Linked DNA regions of Homo sapiens. The protein of the gene in region 6 purifies or fractionates together with the protein of the main gene of each other region. This does not show direct contact. Each region holds a gene or a part of one and is shown on either strand. Other genes may lie near its edges.

Region 1 (3,500 bases), on a different chromosome or scaffold from region 6:
ATGTGCACAACTGAACATTTTTTTTTTTTAAAACTCACCTTAGAAAGCAATGTTCCTTTTTTTCAATATTGCTGTGCCTTCCCAGGCCAAGCACAGTGGAGCATGCCTCTAATCCCAGAACTTTGGGAGGTCAAGGCGGGTGGATTACTTGAGCTCAGGAGTTTGAGGCCAGCCTGGGCAACATGGCGAAACCTCATCTCTACCAAAAAATACAAAAATTAGCCGGTTGTGGTGGTGCATGCCTGTAGTCCCAGCTACTTGGGAGGCTGAGATGGGAGGATTGCTTGAGCCCAGGAGGTTGAGGCTGCAACTGCACTCCAGCCTGGGTGACAAAGTGAGACCCTGTTTCAAATTAAAAAAAAAAGAAGAAACAATATTGCTGTGCCTTCCTAACTCATCTTCCAGAACATGAAAATAAAGGTCTATATGAGAAAATGCCTCGCTACTTTATGTCAATGGATAAATATGGTATTGCTCTGCTGACCCTTTTTCCTCAGATTTGGCAATGAAGGACTTTTTTGGTCTTTTAGGAAGCAAAAAAATCAAACTCTCTCTCTTTTTTCTTTGAGACGGAGTTTCACTCTTGTCACCCAGAATCGTTCGAGTGAGTCTCGTGCCTCAGCCTCCTGTGTAGCTGGGATTACAGGCGCCTGCCACCAGGCCCGGCTAATTTTTTTTTGTATTTTTATTAGAGATGGGGTTTCACCATGTTGGCCAAGCTGGTCTTGAACTCCTGACCTCAGGTGATCTGCTTAGCCTCCCAAAGTGCTGGGATTACAGGTGTGAGCCATCGCACCTGGCCTCTCCTTTCAAATAATAAAAAACTAGAGGGTCAGACTCAGAAGCAAAGCATGACCCTGTCTCTACAAAAATAAATAGCCGGGTTTGTGGTCCCAGCTACTCGGGAGGCCGAGGCAGGAGAATTGCTTGAACTCAGGAGGCGGATGCTGCAGTGAGCTGAGACGGTGCCACTGCACTCCAGCCTGGGTGACAGAATGAGACTCTGCCTCAAAAATAAAATAAAATAGGCCGGGCGCGGTGACTCATGGCTGTAATGTCAGCACTTTGGGAGGCTGAGGCGGGCGGATCACGAGGTCAGGAGTTCGAGACCAGCCTGGCCAACGTGGTGAAACCCCATCTCTACTAAAAATACAAAAAATTAGCCAGGCGTGGTAGCGCGCCTGTAAACCCAGCTATTCGGGAGGCTGAGGCAGGAGAATTGCTTGAACCCAGGAGGTGGAGGTTGCAGTGAGCCGAGATCGCACCATTGCACTCCAGCCTGGGCGACAGAGCAAGGCTCCATCTTGAGGAAAATAATAATAAATAAATAAATAAATAAATAATTAGCTGGGCATGGTGGTGCGTGCCTGTCATCCCAGCTACCCGGGATTCTCCTGTCTCAGCCTGAACCTGGCAGGTGGAGGCTGCAGTGAGCTGAAATCATGCCACTGCACTCTAGCCTGGGCGACAGAGTTAGACTGCCTCAAAAATAAAATAAAATAAAATAAAATAATAAGGCCGGGTGTGGTGGCTCATGCCTGTAATCCCAGCACTTTGGGAAGCTGAGGCGGGTGGATCACCTGAGGTCAGGAGTTTGAGACCAGCCTGACTAACATGGTGAAACCCTGTCTCTAATAAAAATACAAAAATTAGCCGGGTGTGGTGGCACATGCCTGTAATCCCAGCTACTTGGGAGGCTGAGGCAGGAGAATCACTTGAACCCAGGAGGCGTAGGTTGCAGTGTGCCAAGATTGCACCACTGCACTCCAGCCTGGGCAACAAGAGCGAAACTCTGTCTCAAAATAATAATAATAATAAAAAGGAGTCTGGGGATTGGAGGGATTTTGGAGTGCTCTACACCAGGAACCCCCCACCAAATCTTTAATAAGGGACACAGTGTGGAATGCTTCCAACACTTTAAAAAATTTTATTTATTTAATTTATACCGACAGAGTCTCACTATGTTGCTCAGGCTGGTCTTGAACTCCTGGCCTCAAGTAATTTTCCTGTCTCAGCCTTCCTAATAGCTGGGATTACAGGAGTGAGCCACCGCACCCAGCTCCTTCAAACACTTTAAAAGGAAGCTCAGGTAAATGTGAGAAGAGGGTCCATCGTTTCTCCCTCACTGCATTAATGTCCAAGCTCTTTTAACCCATCCTTAATAATTTCTTCCCTCCATGTGACTAAGGCCTCAGGACATGGGCTGTGCTCTGGCTTTGGTGCCCAGCCTACATCCCCTTCTTCCCAGCACTGCCTGTTTCATGTCCAAAGACTTGGGAGCTGCTCCAAGGTAAGCTTCCTGGGCACAGACCTTGTTTGCTTAACCAAACAGGGTGCCATTAACACCTGCAGCCCTACCTGCTCACCTCGGATTCACCTTATCCAGGTACGGGTCTTTGGCACAACTGCCATCCAAGCCTGTATATAGGCTTCAGAGTCAAACATGCAACACGGAGCTGGGAATGTGGAGATTGATGAGGGAAAGTTTCTTTCTGACCCACTCAAAGGTTCTGCTGGCTAATGAGCTGTTTATGGTGTCGCTGGATATTTTTAAGACTCCACAGACTCAAATATTCATACATGACACTCCCTTCGGCAATTAAATTATCTTAAGTACTCTGGACAGCTAACCTCAGAGCAGAGCCTCAGTGTGCAAATGGTTAATGACCATGGAAAGCAAACTGGAGGCCAGGTGAGGTGACTCATGCCTACAATCCCAGCAGTTTGGGAGGCTGAGGTGGGAGGACTGCTTGAGCCCAGGAGTTTGAGGCCAGCCTGGGTAATACATAGAGACCCTGCCTCTACAAAAAAATAAAAAAATTAGCAGGGCATGGTGGCACGTGCCTATAGTCCCAGCTACTTGCAAGGCTGAGGCAGGAGGATCACTTGAGCCCAGGAGTTTGAGACTGCAGTGAGCTATGTTTGTGCCACTGTACTCCAGCCTGGGTGACACCATGAGACCCTGTCTCAGGAAAAAAACAAAAAAAGGGCCGGGTGCAGTGGCTCACGCCTGTAATCCCAGTACTTTGGGAGGCCAATGCAGGCGGATCACGAGGTCAGGAGATCGAGACCATCCTGGCTAACACGGTGAAACCCTGTCTCTACTAAAAACACAAAAAATCAGCCGGGCTTGATCGCGGGCGCCTGTAGTCCCAGCTACTTGGGAGGCTGAGGCAAGAGAATGGCGTGAACCCGGGAGGCGGAGCTTGCAGTGAGCCAAGATCTCACCATTGCACTCCAGCTTGGGCGACAAAGCGAAACTCCATCTCAAAAAAAAAAAAAAAAAAAAAGGAAAGCAAACTGGAGTCATAGGAATGGAGATAGTGCAACCCAACTGCTGCTTCTTTCCCTCCAGGGACAATCACTTGAGGGCCATTCCCAGCAGGAGTGACTGGGGGGTACTTACTCCAATGGTTTTTCCTGAGAAGCTGACAGTCCCTATAAGTAAGCAGGTGCAGACAGCCATGCAGACACTCTATCAAAAGCCTGGCTCTCCACAC
Region 2 (3,500 bases), on a different chromosome or scaffold from region 6:
GCCCTTTTATTTAAGTCTCAACCTCATTAGGTGAAATCTTACTGTTGCTTACTTCATGTCTCTGCTCACCCTGGTTCACACATACAGACTGGCTTAATTCATTATGAGCATTGTTTCAATTTGTGACTTTGAAAGTCTTAAAGGGAATTGATTGTGAGTCACTATAAATGATTATCAAAGTATGTTGAGCTTGAAAGTAAGTGATTTCAGAAGCTTAGCTCAGCTTCCTACCTATACACATACAGTCCTCTCTATTGTACCCCCAGAGTCATGTAGGATCATCTCTCTAAATGAGAAAATTCATCGACTAATACATTCATATTTTATAGTTCTGGCTGTGATGAAATTTAAGATCAAATGCATTTCCCTAAAATCGGTCCAGTTCTTTCCTCTAGAGGTGGGAGAGAGGCTTTTCTTTTATATCACGGCCTTCAGGTATGTCTCTTAATATTTAAGGCTCTTGCTGAAGCTGATAGTCAAGTAGGATCTCATCCTCATCATCCCAGTCTCTCCTCTGGGCTTACCCTTTTTGTCTATGTCCTCTGAAAGAGACACTCAATACTGATCTAATTTAGTCAATCACACATTAAGATCTCCTATTTGTACATCTTTTCATAACATTGCTTAGAGTTGCCTGTGTTGTGACAGTAATCTCATCTATTTAGTGGTTAAAGTCAACCAACAACTGATCTTTAATTTATATACAGTAGTCCCTCCTTATCCTCAGGGAATATGTTCCAAGGCCCACAGTGGATGTCTGAAATGGCACATAGTGCCAAAACCTATATACAGTATTTTTCTCATATACATACACATGATAAAGTTTAATTTATCAATTAGGCACAATAAGAGATTAACAAGTAATAAAATAGAATGATTATAACAATATGCTGTAATAAAAGTTATTTGAATGTGGTCTCTCTGTCTCTCTTCTCTCAAAATATTATATTGTACCGTACTCACTTATTTTCAGACCAAGGTTGACCACAGACTTAATTTCAGAAAGTGAAACTGCAGATAAAGGGGGACTATTGTACAAGGTAGAGACATGGGTTTAAGAGTTAATTTGAAAGACATATCAAATATGTAGCTCTACTAATTCTATCCCCTCTCTATCATTTCTCTGGTGTGTTAATTTTTTGGATTTTCAACTGTTTGATAAAAAATTCTCAGCTTAAAAGCAGTAAATTTGATGAATCCGACATGTCTTTATTCCAGTAAAAGACAGAATTATAACTCATCCTAGAACAGAACTTTCATACTGACATCACTTCCTTCTGCTTGACTTTGATCCATTAAATACTTAACTATGCTACCCAGAGAAGAATATAAATGATAAAAAATGCCTTGCTGAAGTGCAAGTTATAGTAGTTATCTTGCATTACCCTGAGCAGAATACTAAATATTTTGATCATTGGGGAAAATAAACAACTTCAAGGGAATATAAAATTTGCAAACTAGTAAATACAAAAGGGTTCAAATAGAACTCCTTGGCTTTTAAAAGAAAAAAAAATACCCAATTGTTTAGAAAGTTTAAGTCCTATTTCATGGCCACAAAAGAGACAGCAAAATCAGACCTAAATGGTAATCTATCTTTTGGATTCCTTTACTGTGAGGCATAAAAATACAGTTTTTATAAGCCAAAGCCAGGCTTTCTCTTTATAAAAGAAGAATTTGTCACAAGAAAGAGCTTATAATTAAAAAAAAATTTAATCAGAGAAATGGATTGGAAGAGCTATTAATCTAGGGATCTTTATACAATCAAAAGGTAGGATAAAATGTATTACAAAAGCTTGTGATTTCAATATTTATTTATTTGTTTTGAGCCACCTCTGGGTTAGAACAGTTGAGTGTTCACAGCTGGTAGAGTTCTCGTTTTCAAATACTTCAGAAGAAGTTCTTAGGACACCAAACAGGAGCCACAATGTTAGACTTCTGAATAGTCACCCTATAAGTAAAATGTATAAGGCTCTCCTCAGGCTGGGTTTGTTATTAATCCAAGATTAAAAGTGTAGTTCACAGACTACAACTGAGAGCCCAAAGACTCCTCATCCACCCACTTGGTCAGCGCCTCATTCATTCTTTGTCGAACTGTCAACACTGCCTCCAGTTGGCCACTGTTTGAGCACCTGAGCCGCACGCACTGGAGACACGGCAGTGCGTTACAGAACCTGCTCGTAGGGAGCTCCAGTAATCGGACATAAATCCTGAGTTCCATAGCCTAGCTCTTCTCTGGGTGGCTAATCTCACCTAACCATTCCAGTTTGTCAGACTGAGGACTTCTCTACTCAAAGCCTTAAGTGGCTTACTGCTGGCTCCCTATATTAAAATAAACCTCCTTAGGCCAAATTTCCAAATGATCCACAATAAGACCCACGTTGTTTCTAGCCCAACTATGATCTATTTTCCTACACACTTCAAAGACCCAACTCAAATTCAGATTCTTTACAAAGCTTTTAGCATCGATTTTTCTGTCTGCACTTGCCCTGTGCCCACCCGTGTTATCTTATGGCATGTACACAAGGACATAAGTGACACTCCTGCTTTGTATCCTGATCCCATCCCTTGTACCAGATTTAATCTCCTTGATCACAGATCATGTCTTATATTCTTTCCATAGTAACTGTGCTTTCAAGTGGTTGTTAAAGTTGCAGAACATGGGTTTTTATGTTTTTCTTTCTTTTCCTTTTTTGAGATGCAGTGTGGAAGGATAATGCTCAAGGGGCTTGCCAATAAAAATTCTGTTCTAGGGGATACCACATAGTTTGCAACATGAGCATTATTTGAAACTCATAAAACTTTTCTGTATAAATTTGAGGGGAGTGACAACCATCTAGGACCAATAATAAAGTCTAGGTAATTTAGATTTCTTTCTCTCTTTACATATTTCAGAGCAATTGTTGAAAGAGTTGAATATTTTTAAACATGCTGGCTTTACCAAGTAGAGATAAATCTATTTTTGACCTATGACTATAGAGTCAATAGATAAGAACATGTCAAAGCCTAACCAGCACATAATTAGATCTGTTAGCCTTCTTTTGGTTATCAGAGAGTATATATTTTGATGGTATTTATTACTTTATTGTTAGTTTAACTAAAACTTGAATTCCTATAAATAAAAAATTCTTAGACTTCATAAAGTCTAATAAAAATGAGACTGAAGATTATCCATGTTGTTTTCCATTTCCTTTTTTAGAACATTCTAGAAGTCTACAGAAGTAGATTATATAGGCAGTACTTCCTTGCCTATTCCAGTGGAATTCCACTTCATATCTTGAGTGCTTTGCTCTCTTTGAATATTACTTGTTTGAATGTCATTTATACTTGGGAAGTAAGTGTTCAGATACTGATTTATTTGAGAAAACATCACTAATGGAGGAGAGCACAAAGTTGACTACAAATCAAAAGGACCTCAGAGTTAGGATGGACCTGTCAGGATAATCTAGTCTAGTACTTTAAAAAGTTTATCCTCAGAACTATAACAAAAATTATGAAGAATG
Region 3 (3,500 bases), on a different chromosome or scaffold from region 6:
GTAAGAATGTCTGCAGGCACACTGGCTTTTCATGGCAAAATGCTGCTGAGACACTCCAGGGCTTCAGAAATAGAGCAGAGCAACATCCTCCTTCATCCTGCAGGGAGCTAGAGCAGTAGCTTTCATAAAGCAGCTTTGGAAATGAGCTCCGTGCTTCAATGTGGCCTAGCAGAGTGGCCAACGATGAGGACGTGGACACTGACGAGAGACGTCAGAGTCACATGGCAATCTCACCTACAAAACCAAGAGGACAGGCCGGGTGCAGTGGCTCAGGCCCATAATCCGAGTGCTCTGGGAGGCCAAGGCGGGTGGATCACTTGAAGTCAGGAGTTCAAGACCAGCCTGACCAATATGGTGAAACCCCGGCTCTACTAAAAATACAAAAAAAAATTAGCCAGGCGTGGTGGTGCAGGCCTGTGATCCCAGCTACTCAGGAGGCTGAGGCAGGAGAATTGCTTGAACCTAGGAGGTAGAGGTTGCAGTGAGCTGAGATCACGCCTCTGCACTCCAGCCTGGGTGCCAGAGCAAGACTCCATCTCAAAACAAAAACAAAAACAAAAACAAAAACAAAAAAAGGAGAGGACAGTACTGTCCTACCAACATCAGAGGGCCCTGATGGGAGAGCCAGACCTCCCACACACAAGGAGCAGGTTCTGGCCATCTCCTATCTCTGTCAGCTAGACAATGGCAACAGGCAAGTGGCTCTAATGCCAAAATAAGGCAAGTCCTTGCAAAGAACATTTTTTGGGTCCTCCTTTAGAAAAATCTATCATTCTAAAAATGTGAAACATGATGGTAAGCAAAAAGAAATGGACAAATAATAAGGAAATATTCCAAACTGACATATTTTTCAGTTTAGTCTAGCTTCCAAACTAGTTTTCCTTACTTTTCTGTTGACTGTGAAATTCACAAATTAACTGCATTCAGAACACAGTCTTTGATTATGGCTTGTGCCGTTGAAACCAATCAAATATTTCTGAGAAGTGGTAAAGTGTAGCAATTTAGAGCGTTGTCACAGCATGAAAAACATTCAGACTTCATCACCCCAATTCCCACTTTTTAAATCCAATTGGGTGGCTTGGCTCTTGTGAGAGATCTGCAATTCACTCTTCCTACGTGTGATGTTGTCAGAGCGCAGATAACCATTATCACGTAATAAGTGGTTTAGGCAGGAGCAGGAGGAAGGAAGTTTTCAGTTCCACCCAAAACCAATTCTACCTGGTAGCTATAGACAACAAGACAGATGGATAGGTGGGCGGACGGGAAAGCCTGGCAAGGACCTGCCCTGCATGGCAAATGTTTAGACTCTGGCTGCTGTCGATCAGTCTCCCTCCAGCCTAACAGTTTGTGCATTGAACACTAGTGGATTTTGCACTTAATTAAGAGGGTTCTAGCCAACCAAACTGTATTTAGAGACTAAAAAATTAGCCACATGAACAAAAGTATACACTTCGGCTGCATTAACACTCCTACCCAAGACTATTTTTAAATACAACTCCCAAGCCATTAAGTTTGAAAACCGCCAGAACTGATTTGGTAATCTGCTGCTTTGCCAAGTGCTGGAAGTTAGCTTTAACTTCACGCCCACTCTCACACAGACAGACAGACAGACACACACTCACACATACATTCACACAAACAGCTGGTTTTCCCATTATGTTCCTTAGCCTTAGTTTGCTACTTACTTAACTGCTCAAGCCATCCACATGTAATTGCAAAGTTAATCCATTTGGTATTTCTCCTCTTCCAGCTCTATGAGTCCTTAAGCCACGCAGAGCACTTAGCAGAGCACTTATGATAAGACAACGCTTTGCCAATGCTCCTCATTCTAACAAGGAGTCTCTCCAACTTGCCTACCTCCTCCAAACCAGCAGGAAGCTCTGACTTTCCCAGGTGCAACTACCCTAATTGGGGGCTGGGGGATCCTCTTTCCCCAACTCCTCCAGGATGGTGCCCACTATGAATAAGTGGAAGCGGCTGGCTGTAGCATGGACAAGGAGAACAGAGACATCATAAAAAGCAAAGGACGTCAGCACCCCGATGTGTTGCAGATGCAAAGTCCTGTTTACCACTGGCCTTTAAGATTACAGTCTAAACGTCACTTCCTCCCCTTAGATGTCTGGAAAGCATAGGCTTTGTAGGTCAGAGCTCTATATAACGTGGGTGTGTGTCACAGCAAACTAAGGACATGTTTTTCAGAAAGGCCAGAAACTGTCAGGGGCACCCCTTCCCAAGACCCTGGCAAGGGGCAGAGGAGCCACATACCCATCTGCACACTTTAACACCTACGTTCCCCCGGCCCTCACAGGAGTCATAAATGCAATCACAACGGCTAAGATCTCTGATCCCCCCTGCCTCCAAGCTGCCCTTTTAAGGACGATGTGATTATGGTTGGGCCAAGGGGACATGAGCAAAGGGACTTGTATGGCTGGCAGGTGGAGCACGAAAGGACGGGGTGCATCTCCCCCTCCTCAGGCCAGGCTGGAACAGATGGAGACTGCACACCAGCCACAGCTGAGCACCAAATAAAAATCAGCAGGTCTCTGGGAACGCTGCACCCCAACACCAGCCCAGGACTCCCGAGGTGGGCTTTTAGATAGGAGAGAGAATTATCTCCTCTTTAAGCCACTGTCACTTTATGTTCCTCAAAATAAGACCTCTTAACACCTCCCAAATCTGCACCGAACTAGGCTGCATGGCTGGCAAGCTGAGTCCAAGCACATCAGTTCCAAATATGTTAGTGCCAGTTGATCGGTCTGTTCTCATACAGGCTGGCAAAAACAAGATTTAAGCAGCAATTTAAGAAACAGTTTTTTTGAAAGAGGACTCTAGAATATTCTGGGAACACTGAATCATATGATTTTAGAGCTCACATGAGTCTTAAGATCATGTTATCTAACTCCCTCCACCAGCAAGAAGGAAGCAGGGGTTGTTCTGTGCATCACAGGCCACAAACCAATGACACAAAAGCTTACAAAGTAATAGTCCTGGCTCCAAGGAGCTGCTCAGAATTCAGTGGGTCAGAGGGGCAAGTAAAGGGACAATCATAATCCCATAGGAGGTTTTCGGACAGGGGAGGGCGTGGGGTGTGAGAGGGATACTCTCAGAAGGCCTCCTGGGGGAGCCCCAGCTGCAGCTTAAACAACAGGCATTCTGAGAAAGGGGCAAGAAAGCTCTCCAGGCCAAGGTGAGAGAGAAAGCCTGAGACCCCAGGTGAGGCCTGGGAAGCTGCGGTGGCAAACAAAGAGTGGCAAATCCAAAGGCTGGAGCCTCGCTGTCCACTGGAACTAGCCGCACACAGCTATGTAAGTTTAAATGGATTAAAATTTTAAAAGGTGAAAGACTCAGCTCCCAGTTGCAATAATCACCAGTCAAGTGTTCAGAAGCACCTGTGTCTGGCAGCACTGGCAGAGAACACTGGCACCTGGCAGAAGCATCATCAGACAGCCCTGGGCTGAAAAAGTCTGGAGAGGCCCCATCAGGATGGGCCTGCAGGCTGC
Region 4 (3,500 bases), on a different chromosome or scaffold from region 6:
ATGTTAAGTGGGACCAGCAGGAATCTTGCAATTAAGATTCTTTGTGTATTTTGGGGGAGCTTTTTGTTGTGGTTGCAATGTGAAAATGCTTTCATGTAACCAGTGAAAATTAAGTAGGCAAATGACGTGTAAATGTATTATAATGTCGATAACTAATAATCTGTTCCACTGTCCTTTCAATTCAATTTTCTAAAAAGTCTTTAAAGATATTGCATTCTTTTTTTAAACAAATTTAAAAACCTGTAATGTACAATTCTGAAATACATTACTATATTTTCATTTTAACACAGCGAACTTAAGCCATCTGTGCAATCTTAAAGCATCTTGAGTCCAGGAAGAATTGGACTGAAAGTCCCCGGAAGGCAGAGATTTGGTTTCCTCTTAAGCCTCTCTTAAGCTATCAAGGAAAGACAGGCCCCTTGCATTTTCAGAAACTTATCAGGTGCTTATCTGATAAGCAAAAGAAGAATGTCAATTTTTACTTTTCTGCTATTTATAAAACTGCCTATCTTGGAAGAGTACAAATTTCACCCCAACTCTCTTCCCAAAACCCAGCTCTGCAATGGCATCCACACCGCTTATTCTCACACATCAAAGATCTGAGCGAGCTCCAGGACTGGATGCCCTGTGGCATGCTGCTCGCAGGCAGACTGGAGACCAGAGATCAGACAAACGCCCTGAAACTCCCAGATGACAATCTATTCCTGAAGATAAAGGCATGGCCAGCAAGGGGGTAAGAAAAGGGACTGGCTATTCAGTCTCTCACTAGCAGGCTGAATCTTGTCTCCCTCAGCTGGGGAAGGAGAATGACGCAGGACTGGGAAGCCAAAACACCCAGAAAAGGATAAACTGAGAAGCAGTTCAACCAATTCTCCTAGCTTTGGACCAGCCAAGGACACCTACAGGAATCCTGACTTCAGGTGACAAAGGAAACAAGCCAGGAAGGAGAGGGACAACAGCTGGGCTCTCCCTCTAACTCCTTAAAAAGAACTCCTTAAAAGTGACCAAAGCATCAAAGTACTCACCCAAAGAATCAAAGTTTTTGCCCAAAGCTCCACAGTACTCATTCAAAGCTTCACAGTACACTCTACCTGGTGGCACTTCGTTGTTCTGGAAAGCAAAGGGGTCTTTGAGGCTTGACCTCTGGGCTAGTGACTCAATTCCCTCATCTACAAATACCTCCTACTAAGGGATAGTGATGAGAAGGAAATCAACCTACAGAAAGTACCCAGCATGAGGCCTAGCACAAAGCAAGCACCCAATACTTAATAAACAGTAGCATGAATAATATCATATAACTCAATGTGAATGACTCATTCTTTGGAGATTTGGCATGTCTTGTCCACAAGAGCCTTTTAAAATGCAAATATGCCTGAAGTCTATTAACAGCCTTAGTTGACAGCCACATTGAACACAGGATGAGGAAGGGATGCTGGCAGGTGTGTAGAGAAGAGAGTTGGCGGAGGTACCAAGGACCTGCCATGCACCAGGGAAGACACTGCTATTCAAACCTTCTCGCATAGAATGGTAGTTTATATATCATTTTTTGGACCTCAGTCAGGGTTCTGAACCTGAACGCTTTCACATCATTGGAGATTGGAGGAAATAAAACCTAAGTCAGAGAAGCTGGCACCTGTGTTCAGTTTTCTTCCACTCTCTTGCTTCTGTTTGTTCTCAGCTTTTGTCTCAAAAGCAAGTGTTCCCCTGGTCTTGGTCACTACAGCTGTCATAGCCATTTTCTTCATTTCACCAACATCCACTCTTGGGATGCATCCACCTGCCCTGCTACAACGACCCTGAAAGCACAATGGATTTCCTTTCTTCCTTTTAAAATGGGTCTAATGCATTGTCTTGCATGACCTGTGTGCTTAATAAAATATGAACTGATGAGGAAGAGGCTGACAACTGCAAAGACCTACCAAAGGCTGTAAGAGTGTAATGCTGGGAAGCATCCTTTTTCCTCCTCTATGCTGCTTATGGTAAGTTGGAAGGTGCTCACCTGTTAGAGTTTAGCAAACCATGTGTCTGCCTCTCCTCCAGAGGCAAAAGTCTAAAATAGCCAGTGGAGGAGAATTTCATAGCCTGAGGAGACTAAAGTTACTCTCACCTATACCACAGAACTTGAAGACCCCAAATGGTGTCCTAGCTTGAAATAAATAAACAAGGCAGAACTTCCAGTCTTCAAATTCTTATCTTAGAAACAACAACAACAACAAAAACCTAATATTGACTTTTCCATTTGCCCAGGAGCATTCTGAGGAATCCACAAACAATCCATGATGCCAAGTGTTAAACTCCAGTCTGCTCCTGTACTTGGTGTCAAAGTCTGGTACCTCTTGCCCAGTGCCACTCTCAGTGCCACCCTAAGGACAGATACCACTGCTATTCCCTTTTCATGCAGATGCCTAAACTAGTTCACTTCCCCTGTGGGGAAGGGATGAGCACAAAAATCATGTGGAATGAGTGTTCCCACAGAGCTCAGAAATTTGATGATCTCAGAGGATACTGTAAAGAAAGACCCTTGACACTTCCCTAAGGAAGAATGCCTTCTGTAAAAGGCTACTGCCAGGACAAAAAGCATGTGCTGGGAAAAATCTATGGCCTGCTGCTGCGAGTGTTTCCAATTCTGATGTCCCACTTCCTCTTTATAAGCACATTCCTTCCCTCCTTATTTCTCTTCTTAAAAAGACACTCTGGCATCGGGTCTCAGTTAAGAAGCAAAGTGCAATGTTCTATTAAAGGCTGTAAGATAAAAAGGGCTTAAAATGGATTTCAATAAACATAAAAGCCTTGAGTGCAATATAAGATCTACTCTGTTCTACCACTTTTAAATGTTTCGAAAAAAGAACTTATTTTTAAATGTTGGCAACCTAACTTTTTAAAAGTAAAGTTTCATTCACTTACAGCTTATTCATACAGGCCATAACATACAGCTCTTTAGCAATACAGTTCTAAGAGTTGTAATGTCCTAACCTGGGCTTCCAAACCTATCTCACAGTGGTTTTTGGAAGAATCAACTACAATAATAGACGTGAAAGTAATTTGACATCTGCCAGGGGCTAACCAACTAGATAATCAAACTGTTGTTATTATTAAAATACATCATACCATACAGTATATACCTAAAGAGTATGGACTTTGGGATCCCCAATCGCACTTCCACCACTTAGTAGTTAGCTACACAAGCACAGAGGGTCCTCAATTTACAATGGTTCAACTTAGGATTTTTTTACTCTATAATGGTGCAAAAATGATAGGCATTCAGTGGAAATCATACTTAGAATTTTGAATTGTGATGTTTTCTGGGGCTAGCCACATGTAGTACGATACCCCATCACAATGCTGGGCAGTGGCAGCGAGCCGCAGCTCCCAGTCAGCTACACCATCACAAGGATGAACAACCAATACTCTACAGTGGACTGTGTTACCAGACGATTTTGCCCAACTGTAGGCTAATGTGACTGTTCTGGACACATTTAAGGTTCGGTAGATTAAGTGTA
Region 5 (3,500 bases), on a different chromosome or scaffold from region 6:
GTTCTTTCAAACAAACATAGTGTTCTGGAGGAAAGCAGCTAGTTCAGATCACACCTCTATGGTGCAAGTGGTTTTCCTTGAGAAAACCATTATGTTCCAGTATGCAGCAATGCAGCACAAGCACTTTATATGCACTTCCTACTTTGCCACACAAAATATTAAAAAGGCATGTATTCAGGGACCAAGATTTATTAATTTCTACTGCTTCATCAAGGATATTTATTGCAAATGCATGATGATGAAGAATAACTCCTGATACAGTCCCTGCCTTGAGTTGGTTAAGGCACCAGCAAACTAACTCATCAATGTTTTTGTACCATCAGTAGAAATAATGGCAAATAATTTCTTAGGATTATGAAAATAGTTTTGATATACTCTCATGGATGACCCGAAAGGGTCTTAAGGATTTGTGTGGGTCCTTATACAACATACTTGAGGATCACTGATTTAGACAATAACAGGAACAGACTTTTCCCATCACTGTATTTCTTAGACATTTATTTCTACTCAATATGAAAACTGAACAGTTAAGAATGTTAGCGTTACATATACAACACAACATGTAATCTAGGTCCTAGAATACATTCATGTATCAATTATCCAACAACCAAAATCCAAGAATTAAACAAATGTTTCTCAATATAAAAAACAAAGGTAGTCGGGCTCAGTGACTTACACCTACTATCACAACACTTTGGGAAGCCAAGGCAGGAGGATGGCTTGAGCCCAAGCATTCAAGATTAGCCTGGGCAATACAGGGAGATCCCATCTCTACAAAAAGTAAAAAAAAAAAAAAAAAAAAAAAATAGCCGGTTGTGGTGGCACACACCTGTAGTCTTAGCTATAGCTGTGGCGGGAGGATTGCTTGAGCCCAGGAGTTCAAGGATGCAGTGAGCTATGACTGTACCACTGTACTCTTGCCTGGGTAATAGACGGAGTCTGTCTCTTAAAGCAACAACAACAACAACAACAAAAAGCGAAAAACCAAAAAACAAGGGTCACAAAACCCAAACATTAAAGTGAATGGAGTTCATTTATCTTTTAGACCAAATTCTAGAAAGATTAATTAGCAAGTTTATCAACAAATTAAAAACAAGAAGAAAAAGCAGATTGTGTGTGGTGGCAGCAACACAGGATTGCTAAAAGGAAAGGCACTGACAGGAAGGGATATAGACAATAGTATGGTGTGACAATGGGAGCCCAAATAAAAGGGAGCGAAAAGGGGAAAAAAAGCAAGCATTAAAAAAATTCACACAAGCAAGCCAGAAGCGAGGATTCTGGCCATTGGTTGTACAGTGGGAGAAAACAATGCTATTTATTTCATCTACCTCTCATGGTCATGAGAACAACCGTAATTCATAGGAAAAGTCACGGTATCTGCTATATAAGCTAATCATGGCTTAAAAGAAAGTTTAGATAATCAGAGGACTATATCCCATTATATGGAAATTTCAAAATGGTGAATATATTGGTGGAACATTGTTTCCTCATGCCACATAAATGAGGTAATAATGTACATTTTCTTTGGTGAACTCAAAGTAGATAGATCCTACACAGAGGCTGGAGACTATATTCAACAGAATTTTCTGTGATATTGGAAATGTCCCATAGCTGCACTGTACAATATGTGACTACTGAAGACTTGCAATGTGATTAACGTGAATAAGAAACCGAATTTTTAAGTTTATGTTATTTAATTTAAAAAAAATTTTTTTTTTTTGACATGGAGTGTCACACTGTCACTCAGGCTGGAGTGCAGTGGAATGACCTCAGCTCACTACAATCTCCACCTCCCAGGTTCAAGTGATTCTCATGCCTCAGCCTCCTGAGTAGCTGGGATTATAGGTGTTTGCCACCACGCCTGATTAATTTTTGAATTTTTAGTAGAGACAGGGTTTCACCATGTTGGCCATTCTGGTCATGAACTTAAGTTTATTTAATTTTAATAGCTACATGTGGCTTATGACTACCATAGTGAACAGCACAGAGTCCTTCATAAAACTGGTCAGCAATATGCTGATTAAAAAGAATCTAAGTTCTACTAAATTGTAAGCTACGTTAAAAAAACTATTTATGGCTAGGCTGGTGGCTCAAGCCTGTAATCCTAGCACTTTGGGAGGCCAAGGCAGGTGGATTGCTTGAGCCCAGGAGTTTGAGACTAGCCCGGGAAACATGGCGAAACTCAGTCTCTATTTTAAAAAAAAGAAAAAAATAAATAACACTATTTATAAAAATGTGTAAAATTTCTCATGTTTAAGAGATCTGGCAGGTGAGACATTGCTAACTTAACATAAATCACTTGTAGGCCACTAAGTAATCTTAAAAATCTTAATTTACATTGTACTAGGACATTGGAGTGAATATTTAGGCACCACTTGTAGAAAGCTCCAATTTGCACAAAATAAATGGCTTCTGGACCATAAATCAACTGATTCATAAATTCACTTAACAATTACACTGAGCCCTGATCATGTCTATGCTTAGCTTTAGGAAAACCACAGTAAACAAACTGGATTCAATCCCCGCCCTCAGAGAGTTTATAGTCTAATAAAAGTAATCGCAGATCAAAGGAAGTTCTCAGAGGAAAATCAACAGGTGATAAGATAATTGGATAAAGGTTAATTTGGGAGAGGACGCTCAAAAAGGCCTCTCTGAGGAAATGACAAATGACTTGAGGCCCAAAGATGAGGCAGCCAGCCAAGCTACTACCTTTCCATGCAGATTAGCCAAGGCCCAGAGGCAGGAAGAAGTTTGGCTTGTTACTGGAGTCAGGCCAATGAAGACCCAGGATAGGAAAGTTGGGGAAAGGGTGCCAGATGAACTTGGAAGTTAAAATCAACCATCCAGTTTTCCTTTACTTGAGCAACACATCCAGCTTCAGATGGCGTAACACCCACTTACCAAAGAAAGGGTCCTGGCCTAGCTGCTTTCGAAGGCTTTCTACCACAGGGTGACCAAAGGTGATGTTGGGAACAAAATGCCTACAAGACAAACAAAATCTACTCTGAAAATGTTTTCAATTCAGTTTCTGTATCTCTCTCAATATGAATTCTGACACAGGTTGAGGGGATTGTCTGCAATGTTTTTCAATTTAATACTTAATCATCAGTATTAAATAATACTAAAAATAATGGGTCATTTTGGTTTTACTAGGCAATGTCTCCTTGACATTTCAACAAATCACGTCACATATATTTTCATAATGATTTGACTCCGTAATTCACGACCCATGACAAGTAGAAATGGAGAGATGATAAAATCAGAAACCCTCAGGCTTTATGACTTGCCCAAGTCACACACTAGTTAGTAAGTTCTGGACTCTAATATTGATCTCCTGAATCCTAGTCTATCTCAGGAGGCCTGTGGCTACTTCTAATCACTTCTATCACAAGGCACTAAATGACAGTTTCTTTAAACTTTCTTAAAGATGACTAATAAAGAAACATGATGTGTTTATTAGTAACGACCACCTTTCACCGAGGGTTTACTACATGCCAAGC
Region 6 (3,500 bases):
TGCTAGCTAACGTTTTTCATTTGATCCTTATGTATATTCATGTACTTGGGATTTTTTTTTTTTTGTACGACCTGCCCCTTTTTTTGTACACTGGCCATTTGTGGATATATATTGAATATTTCACATATTTGATGTGATTTGTATTTTTTGTAGGATGCTTCACAGTTTAAATGTCAAGATCTCAGACTACCTAGGCTTTGAAAGTTAAGATTCATTTTTATGTAAAAATCTTATGTTTTATGAATAATGCTTTAAAAGTTAACATGTAATAATTAATCTTTTTACTGATTTCACTTTTAGGTGTTAGAAGATAATGACTATGGCCGAGCAGTAGACTGGTGGGGCCTAGGGGTTGTCATGTATGAAATGATGTGTGGGAGGTTACCTTTCTACAACCAGGACCATGAGAAACTTTTTGAATTAATATTAATGGAAGACATTAAATTTCCTCGAACACTCTCTTCAGATGCAAAATCATTGCTTTCAGGGCTCTTGATAAAGGATCCAAATAAACGGTAAGCCTCAAATAACGCTTAGTGAATTACTGATGAATGTGGTTAAAAATTGAGATATGGAAATTAATTCAAATATAACTAACTCCAAGAAGCAATGTATTTGGTGTAGACATCTTCCCACTGAGATCCTGACTTATTTTTAACTGCATAATATAGAACATTTAAAAATTTTTCTCAACTCTTTCCTAACTTGGAAATTTTATGCAGATTTACCAAATAAGGATTTTGAGAGTTTCATTATCCATATTATGAGTGAAAATTTCTTAATTGCTCTGTTACTTGATCTTGTGGGGATAGAAGAATCACTTTTCTTTCTTTCAGTCTCTGGGCCTTTGTATTTCTTATAAAAGGAATAGACCTATTTTTCAATACTCTCCTCCCACCCGCAACCTGTGTTAACATATCTAATTGCATTTTTTTTTTTTTTTTTTTTTTTTTTTGAGACAGAGTCTCACTCTGCCACCCAGGCTGGAGTGCAGTGGCGCGATCTTGACTCACTGCAACCTCTGCTTCCCAGGTTCAGGTGATTTTCCTGCCTCAGCCTCCCGAGTGGCTGGGACTACAGGCACCTCCACCACGCCTGTCTAATTTTTGTGTTTTTAGTAGAGACGGGGTTTTGCCAAGTTGGCCAGGCTAGTCTTGAACTCCCGACCTCAAGTGATCCGCCTGCTTCGGCCTCCCAAAGTGCTGGGATTACAGTCGTGAGCCACCGCACCCGGCCTCTAACTGCTTTTTTGTCATTTGAAAATAATCTTTTCTATGCATAGCTGAAAGAGTTGATGGCAAAAAATAATTGTACACACTTTTAATTTCTGTTTTTGTAGCTACAGCTATGAATTGAAGAACTCTATGGCTCTTGCTGCTTTGTTCAATGAGCTACAGTATTTTTATTCATGTTTATACATTCATTCATATTTATAAATTCATAAATCATATGTGAAATGACTATTAATATTAAAATGTTTCTTAATATGTGTGTTTGTATATGGATATATCTGCCTTCCCATCTAGGTATCTGTGCATATCAGTATTTCTCTGAGTCTACTCATTTGAAGCATAGATGATTTCACATATTGTTGAATATTTTATAATACCTCACATAGAGTTTTATGAAAATGTTTTACGTATGGTTGATGCTCATATATATATATATTATATATATATGAGTGGGTTAATGAGTGAATCCCAAAAAGTTGGATTTTTAAGTCTATCTGAGAAATGGTTTTCATTGTATTCTTCTAGCTTTTAACCTTGTAAGGAACATGGCTTTATCTTCAGCAGAAATAAGCAAACATAATAAAAGAGATATTGTCTTTCTGCTTTGTGAAGACTCATTCAAGAAACATTTTGTAATCCTAGCTGCAGATATTATTTATATGTGTAAAGTGATTTTGTTTTCTTCTTCAGAGCACTTTCACAGCTATTAATTCCCTTGCTTTTTCAGGAGCCTTGTTGGGTGGATAGGGGAGATACTATTCTTATTTCCATTTCATTGAGTTGAAAACAAAGGCCCAGAGAGGGTTAGGTGATTTCTTCAAGGTCTCTCAGAACATTCATGCAGACCAAGAGTAGAAGTCAAGTTTCTTGGTGCCTATTTGGTATTTCTTATGTATCTTATTTACAATGCAGCAGTTTCTCAGTTTAAGTTTTGAAATGTGTTCCGTTTGATAGCGTTCTTTTACAATTAAGTAAGGAGCAGCACCCGATGATAGGTAACTTTAAACAGAGTGGTGACTTTTATCTTTTTTTTTTTTTTTTTTTTTTTTTTTTGAGAGGGAGTCTCGCTCTGTTGTCTGGGCTGGAGTGCAGTGGCGCAATCTCGGCCCACTGCAACCTCCGCCTCCTGGGTTCAAGCAATTCCCCTGCCTCAGCCTCCTGAGTAGCTGGGACTACAGGCGCCTGCCACCACACCTGGCTTTTTTTTTTTTTTTTTTTTTTTGGTATTTTAGTAGAGATGGGGTTTCACCATGTTGGCCAGGATGGTCTCCATCTCCTGACCTCGTGATCCACCCCCCTCGGCTTTCCAAAGTGCTGGGATTACAGGCATGAGCCACCGTGTCCAGCCGACTTTTATCTATTTCATTTTTTGGTCTAATATTTGGCTTGGTATTCGAGGCAGTGAATATTTATCTCATCGTTTTCTTATTCCTGCAGGCAACTTTGACCACCCTTTACTTTGTGGCCCTCTTTATATAAGTGGCTAGTAGAACAAAATGTACTTGTGGTTTTCATGTGTATGTCTCATTCATTTTTTTTTATTTGTCAGCCCACTCCATGAATAGCACATAGTCGGTACTTAGGAACTATTGAATGAATGTGAGGCAAATTCTTAGAATGTTAACCGCCTAGTATGTATTAATAGAACAATTCCTAACTGTTTGTTCACCAGGAGGTTGATATTGATCTAATGAGAAGATGCAGTATTTTCAATGATCTAATAATTTCTTTTATAATAGATGTGTCAAGCCCCTCCACTGCTGCATCAAAATACAGAGAATACAAGGATGAGTGAGATGAACCAGTCTCTGCTCTAGATGTTCATAGAATAATTTGGGGCACAAAACATATACTCACAGATGCTCAGGTCAAACTACATACAAAGTACTGTTGAAATTATTGGCTTTGTCTAGGGGATTGGGGGACTTGAGCTGGATCAGAAAGGAGTTTGAATTTGCATTGGCACTCAAGCACAGAAATTTACATGTAGAGTATAGCTAGGATTGCAAAAGAACATGGCATTTGAGAAGTTCAGTGACTAGAGTGTAGAATATGAGTTGGGTAACACTGGGAAATGAAGCTGATATATTAGATTATAAGGATCTTAGGTTTCTTAGAAAATATTTAATCTTCATTCAGAAGAGGGTGAGATACTGCTTAAGTGTTTAAAGCAAGGGATAGTATAATCAGATTTGTGTCATGAAAAGGTAACTCTGGCAGCTTTGTCATGGACAGATTAGATGAGTGAGGATCCAGGGGCAGGCAGAG
Region 7 (3,500 bases), on a different chromosome or scaffold from region 6:
TTTCAAGGAGTAATTTGGTATGATGCAAAAGATTTTGAAGAATAAAAACGGATATCTGGAGTGGGTAGAGAGGTGGAATTTGTCCCATTTTCATCTGCCTTTTCTTCTATGAAGAATTTGGAAAACTATCTATCAGAAGCACTTTAAGAACAATTATAAGACATTTTACTACTTCCTTTGCCAGTACAAAATGTAACATAATTGAGGAATACTAAATTTATATTCAGTGCAAAAGCTGTGCATTGGAATTTGATGATTATATTTAACCATATTTTTTGCAAATTTAAAAAGATTAGAATTTCTACATGACTAGATTAGCTGGTATTTGATATTTAATGAATAACAGTAAGTGTTTGGAAAAGTAATTCTGGATAAGAATTACCTGTGATCCTCAGTTTCATCATCTGTAAAATTAGAATAATAATAGTGCCTACTTTATAGGATTCTTACGACAATTACATGAGATGAATTATGCAAACTACTTAGAATAGTGTCTGGTATAATAAACTTCATGTGAGTGTTATTATTTTGAACCATAGTTAACAATCGTCTTATTGGGAAAATACCATTTGCATGTACTAGTTATAAAAACTATGTGTAGGGCTATATCATTGGGGAGGTGACAGCATTTTATACTTCTTTTTGTAGTGGACAGTTGATTAGGAATTAAGTACAGATGTTTTGCCAATTATAAGGAAATAAAATTTTTAAAGGAGTTTTTAACAGTTTATGAAACTGTTATGATGTTTTAACAGGAATTGTCTAAGAAATGCTTTCTATTGGCATATTTGCTAAATTATCTTTGTTCTACTACCTTCTTTCAGACTTCTGCATTTTCATAAAGCTTATTTGAAAAAAAGGTGTAATCGGGGATAAAGCCACAAATGTCTTAGGAGTTTCTGTAATCATCACCCTTAATTCACTTAATTGTAGCAATAAGCTGGCTGTGAATTACTTAAAACTTTATGAGGCCAGGCGCAGTGGCTCACACCTGTAGTTCCAGCACTTTGGGAGGCCAAGGTGGCAGATCGCTTGAGCCCAGGAGTTCAAGACCAGCCTGGGCAACATAGGGAAACCCCATCTCTACAAAAAAATAAATTTAAAAAAAATTAGCTGGACATGGTGAAGCGTGCCTGCAGTCCCAGCTACTCAGGAGGCTGAGGTGGGAGGATTGCTTAGGCGGGAGGTCAAGGCTGCAGTGAGCCATGTTCGTGCCACTGCACTCTGGCCTGGGAGAAACAGACCCTGTCTCAAAAAAAAACAAAAACAAACAACAACCACAAAAACACCTTGATAAACAATTCATGCCATTCAAGTAGTAATGAATGCAGATTATTTTTAGTCTCTACCTTTTGGTATATGTCATGTGGTACGGGAAGGGTGTTGAACAGGTTTAGGAAGTAAGTTGCACAGGTTGGTAAGGTTTTGTTTGTTTGAAAGAGTGTAGTAATGATAGAGTTCTAACAGAGTACAAGCCTGGCAAAGGCAATTGCTTGAGAACAATATCATGGCTAGAATGTAAGTAGAAATTCAACTTCAGGTTTCTCGTGCCTCCAAATGTAGGACCCTTCACAGCCCTCACCAGCCTGAAGGTTCTGTCACTTCAGAAAACCAGGCTGTCTTCTGCCTCCTATTGAAATGGAAATGCATGGATAACTAACACCTTTAACTGGTTTTGGGTTAAGTGATTTGTAAAGCTCTGTACTTTTTGAGTTCTAGTGCAAAGTTTTATTCTCATTTGTTGCCATAAAGGAGTAAGAAGCAACTATTTGTCAATTAGAGAGGGCATTGTGGGAAAGAGACCCTAAGAACTTTTTTTTTTTTTTTTTGAGACAGGGTCTCACTCTGTTGCCCAGGCTGGAGTGCAGTGGTGCAATCATAGCTCATTGCAGCCTCAAACTCCTGGCCTCAAATGATCCTTCCACCCCAGACTTTCAAAGTACTGGGATTATAGATGTGAGCCACTGTGCCTGGCAACTACCTGATTTTTAATTTTTATTTATTTATTTTTTCAGACAGGGTCTTGCTCTGTCATCCAGGCTGGAGTGCAATGGCATGATCACGGCTCACTGCAGCCTCAAGCTTCTGGGCTCAAGCAATCCTCCCAGCTCAGCCTCCTGAGTAGCTGGGACTACAGGCACATGCCACCACGCCTGGCTAATTTTTTAATTTTTTGTAGAGATAGGGTTTCACCATGTTGCCCAGGCTGGTCTTGAACTCCTGAGTTCAGGTGGTCCGCTCATCCCAGTCCCCCAAAGTGCTGCGATTACAGAGGTGAGCCACTGGCCAGGAACTTTTTTGCGGGGGCAAGGAGGGGATGGTGGTCCAGACCAGAGAGTAGTTGGAGGTTTATTCATTCAGAAGATAATTGACCCCAGCAGCAGCTGCGAAGATATAAGCTTTATTTTTGTAAATTTCTGGATAAACCATTTGAAAGTTGCAGGTATTGGAACTCTTTACCCCTTCATACTTCTGCATGTATCCCTTAAGTATTGGGATGGTTTTTACGTAACAACAATACTATTATCACACCTAAGAAAGTTGATAATACTTCTTAATACTATCTTTTTTTTTTTTTTGAGACAGAGTCTTGCTCTTGTTGCCCAGGCTGGAGTGCAGTGACTCGATCTCAGCTCACTGCAACCTCTGCCTCCTGGGTTCAAGCCATTCTCTTGCCTCAGCTTCCCAAGTAGCTGGGATTACAGGTGCCTGCCACCAGGCCTGGCTAATTTTTTGTATTTTTAGTAGAGATGGGGTTTCGCCACGTTGGCCAGGCTGGTCTCGAACTCCTGACCTCAGGTGATCCACCCACTTCAGCCTCCCAAAGTGCTGGGATTACAGGCGTGAGCCACCGCACCTGGCCCCTTTTTTTCTTTTTCTTTTTTTTTTTTTAATTGAGATGGAGTTTCACTTTTGTCGCCCAGGCTGGAGTGCAGTGGCGCGATCTCAGCTCACTGCAACCTCCGCCTCCTGGCTTCAAATGATTCTCCTGCCTCAGCCTCCCAAGTAGCTGGGATTACAGGCATGTGCCACCACGCCTGGCTAATTGTTTTTATTTTTAGTAGATACGAGGTTTTACCATGTTGGCCAGGCTGGTCTCGAACTCCTAACCTCAGATGATCTGCCTGCCTCAGCCTCCCAAAGGGCTAGGATTATAGACGTGAGCCACCTTAATATTATCTATCATTCACTTCCTATTCAAATTTCTCCAATTATAAGAAGATAGATTTTGTTTGTTTTATATAATGTTTTAAAATCTCTCTTAATCCCTAAGAGACTAGTCCAGGGCTTGAAGTCTTCATGTCAGGGGGAATGTTAAGGTGTAGTCTATTCCGGGAAGCGCAGGCTTCAACTTTCCTTTATCTAGAGCTACCTTTAGCTGTACTTGTAATCTTTACATAGGTTATCAGTCTGTTCTTCTGCATTAAGATTTGGAATAAAGGCAAGGACAAAATAACTTTTTCTTTTCTTTTTTTTTGAGATGGAGTCTCGTTCTGTCA

The links.
Region 1: the proteins of AKT3 (region 6) and EIF4EBP1 fractionate together in Homo sapiens (co-fractionation; one large-scale study listed by BioGRID). This does not show direct contact.
Region 2: the proteins of AKT3 (region 6) and DAB2 purify together in Homo sapiens (affinity purification with mass spectrometry; one large-scale study listed by BioGRID and IntAct). This does not show direct contact.
Region 3: the proteins of AKT3 (region 6) and COBL purify together in Homo sapiens (affinity purification with mass spectrometry; one large-scale study listed by BioGRID and IntAct). This does not show direct contact.
Region 4: the proteins of AKT3 (region 6) and MYO1B purify together in Homo sapiens (affinity purification with mass spectrometry; one large-scale study listed by BioGRID and IntAct). This does not show direct contact.
Region 5: the proteins of AKT3 (region 6) and RPE fractionate together in Homo sapiens (co-fractionation; one large-scale study listed by BioGRID). This does not show direct contact.
Region 7: the proteins of AKT3 (region 6) and CHP1 purify together in Homo sapiens (affinity purification with mass spectrometry; one study listed by BioGRID and IntAct). This does not show direct contact.

What each region holds. Positions count from the first base shown.
Region 1 is NC_000008.11:38,033,534-38,037,033, reverse strand, and holds part of EIF4EBP1 (eukaryotic translation initiation factor 4E-binding protein 1), read right to left. Parts: intron 1-3,500. UniProt on the Homo sapiens protein: Repressor of translation initiation that regulates EIF4E activity by preventing its assembly into the eIF4F complex: hypophosphorylated form competes with EIF4G1/EIF4G3 and strongly binds to EIF4E, leading to repress translation.
Region 2 is NC_000005.10:39,383,481-39,386,980, forward strand, and holds part of DAB2 (disabled homolog 2), read right to left. Parts: intron 1-3,500. UniProt on the Homo sapiens protein: Adapter protein that functions as a clathrin-associated sorting protein (CLASP) required for clathrin-mediated endocytosis of selected cargo proteins.
Region 3 is NC_000007.14:51,306,810-51,310,309, forward strand, and holds part of COBL (protein cordon-bleu), read right to left. Parts: intron 1-3,500.
Region 4 is NC_000002.12:191,248,404-191,251,903, reverse strand, and holds part of MYO1B (unconventional myosin-Ib), read right to left. Parts: intron 1-3,500. UniProt on the Homo sapiens protein: Motor protein that may participate in process critical to neuronal development and function such as cell migration, neurite outgrowth and vesicular transport.
Region 5 is NC_000002.12:210,009,138-210,012,637, reverse strand, and holds part of RPE (ribulose-phosphate 3-epimerase), read right to left. Parts: intron 2,982-3,500; coding exon 2,902-2,981; intron 1-2,901. UniProt on the Homo sapiens protein: Catalyzes the reversible epimerization of D-ribulose 5-phosphate to D-xylulose 5-phosphate.
Region 6 is NC_000001.11:243,549,744-243,553,243, reverse strand, and holds part of AKT3 (RAC-gamma serine/threonine-protein kinase), read left to right. Parts: intron 1-300; coding exon 301-515; intron 516-3,500. UniProt on the Homo sapiens protein: AKT3 is one of 3 closely related serine/threonine-protein kinases (AKT1, AKT2 and AKT3) called the AKT kinase, and which regulate many processes including metabolism, proliferation, cell survival, growth and angiogenesis.
Region 7 is NC_000015.10:41,234,268-41,237,767, forward strand, and holds part of CHP1 (calcineurin B homologous protein 1), read left to right. Parts: intron 1-3,500. UniProt on the Homo sapiens protein: Calcium-binding protein involved in different processes such as regulation of vesicular trafficking, plasma membrane Na(+)/H(+) exchanger and gene transcription. Involved in the constitutive exocytic membrane traffic.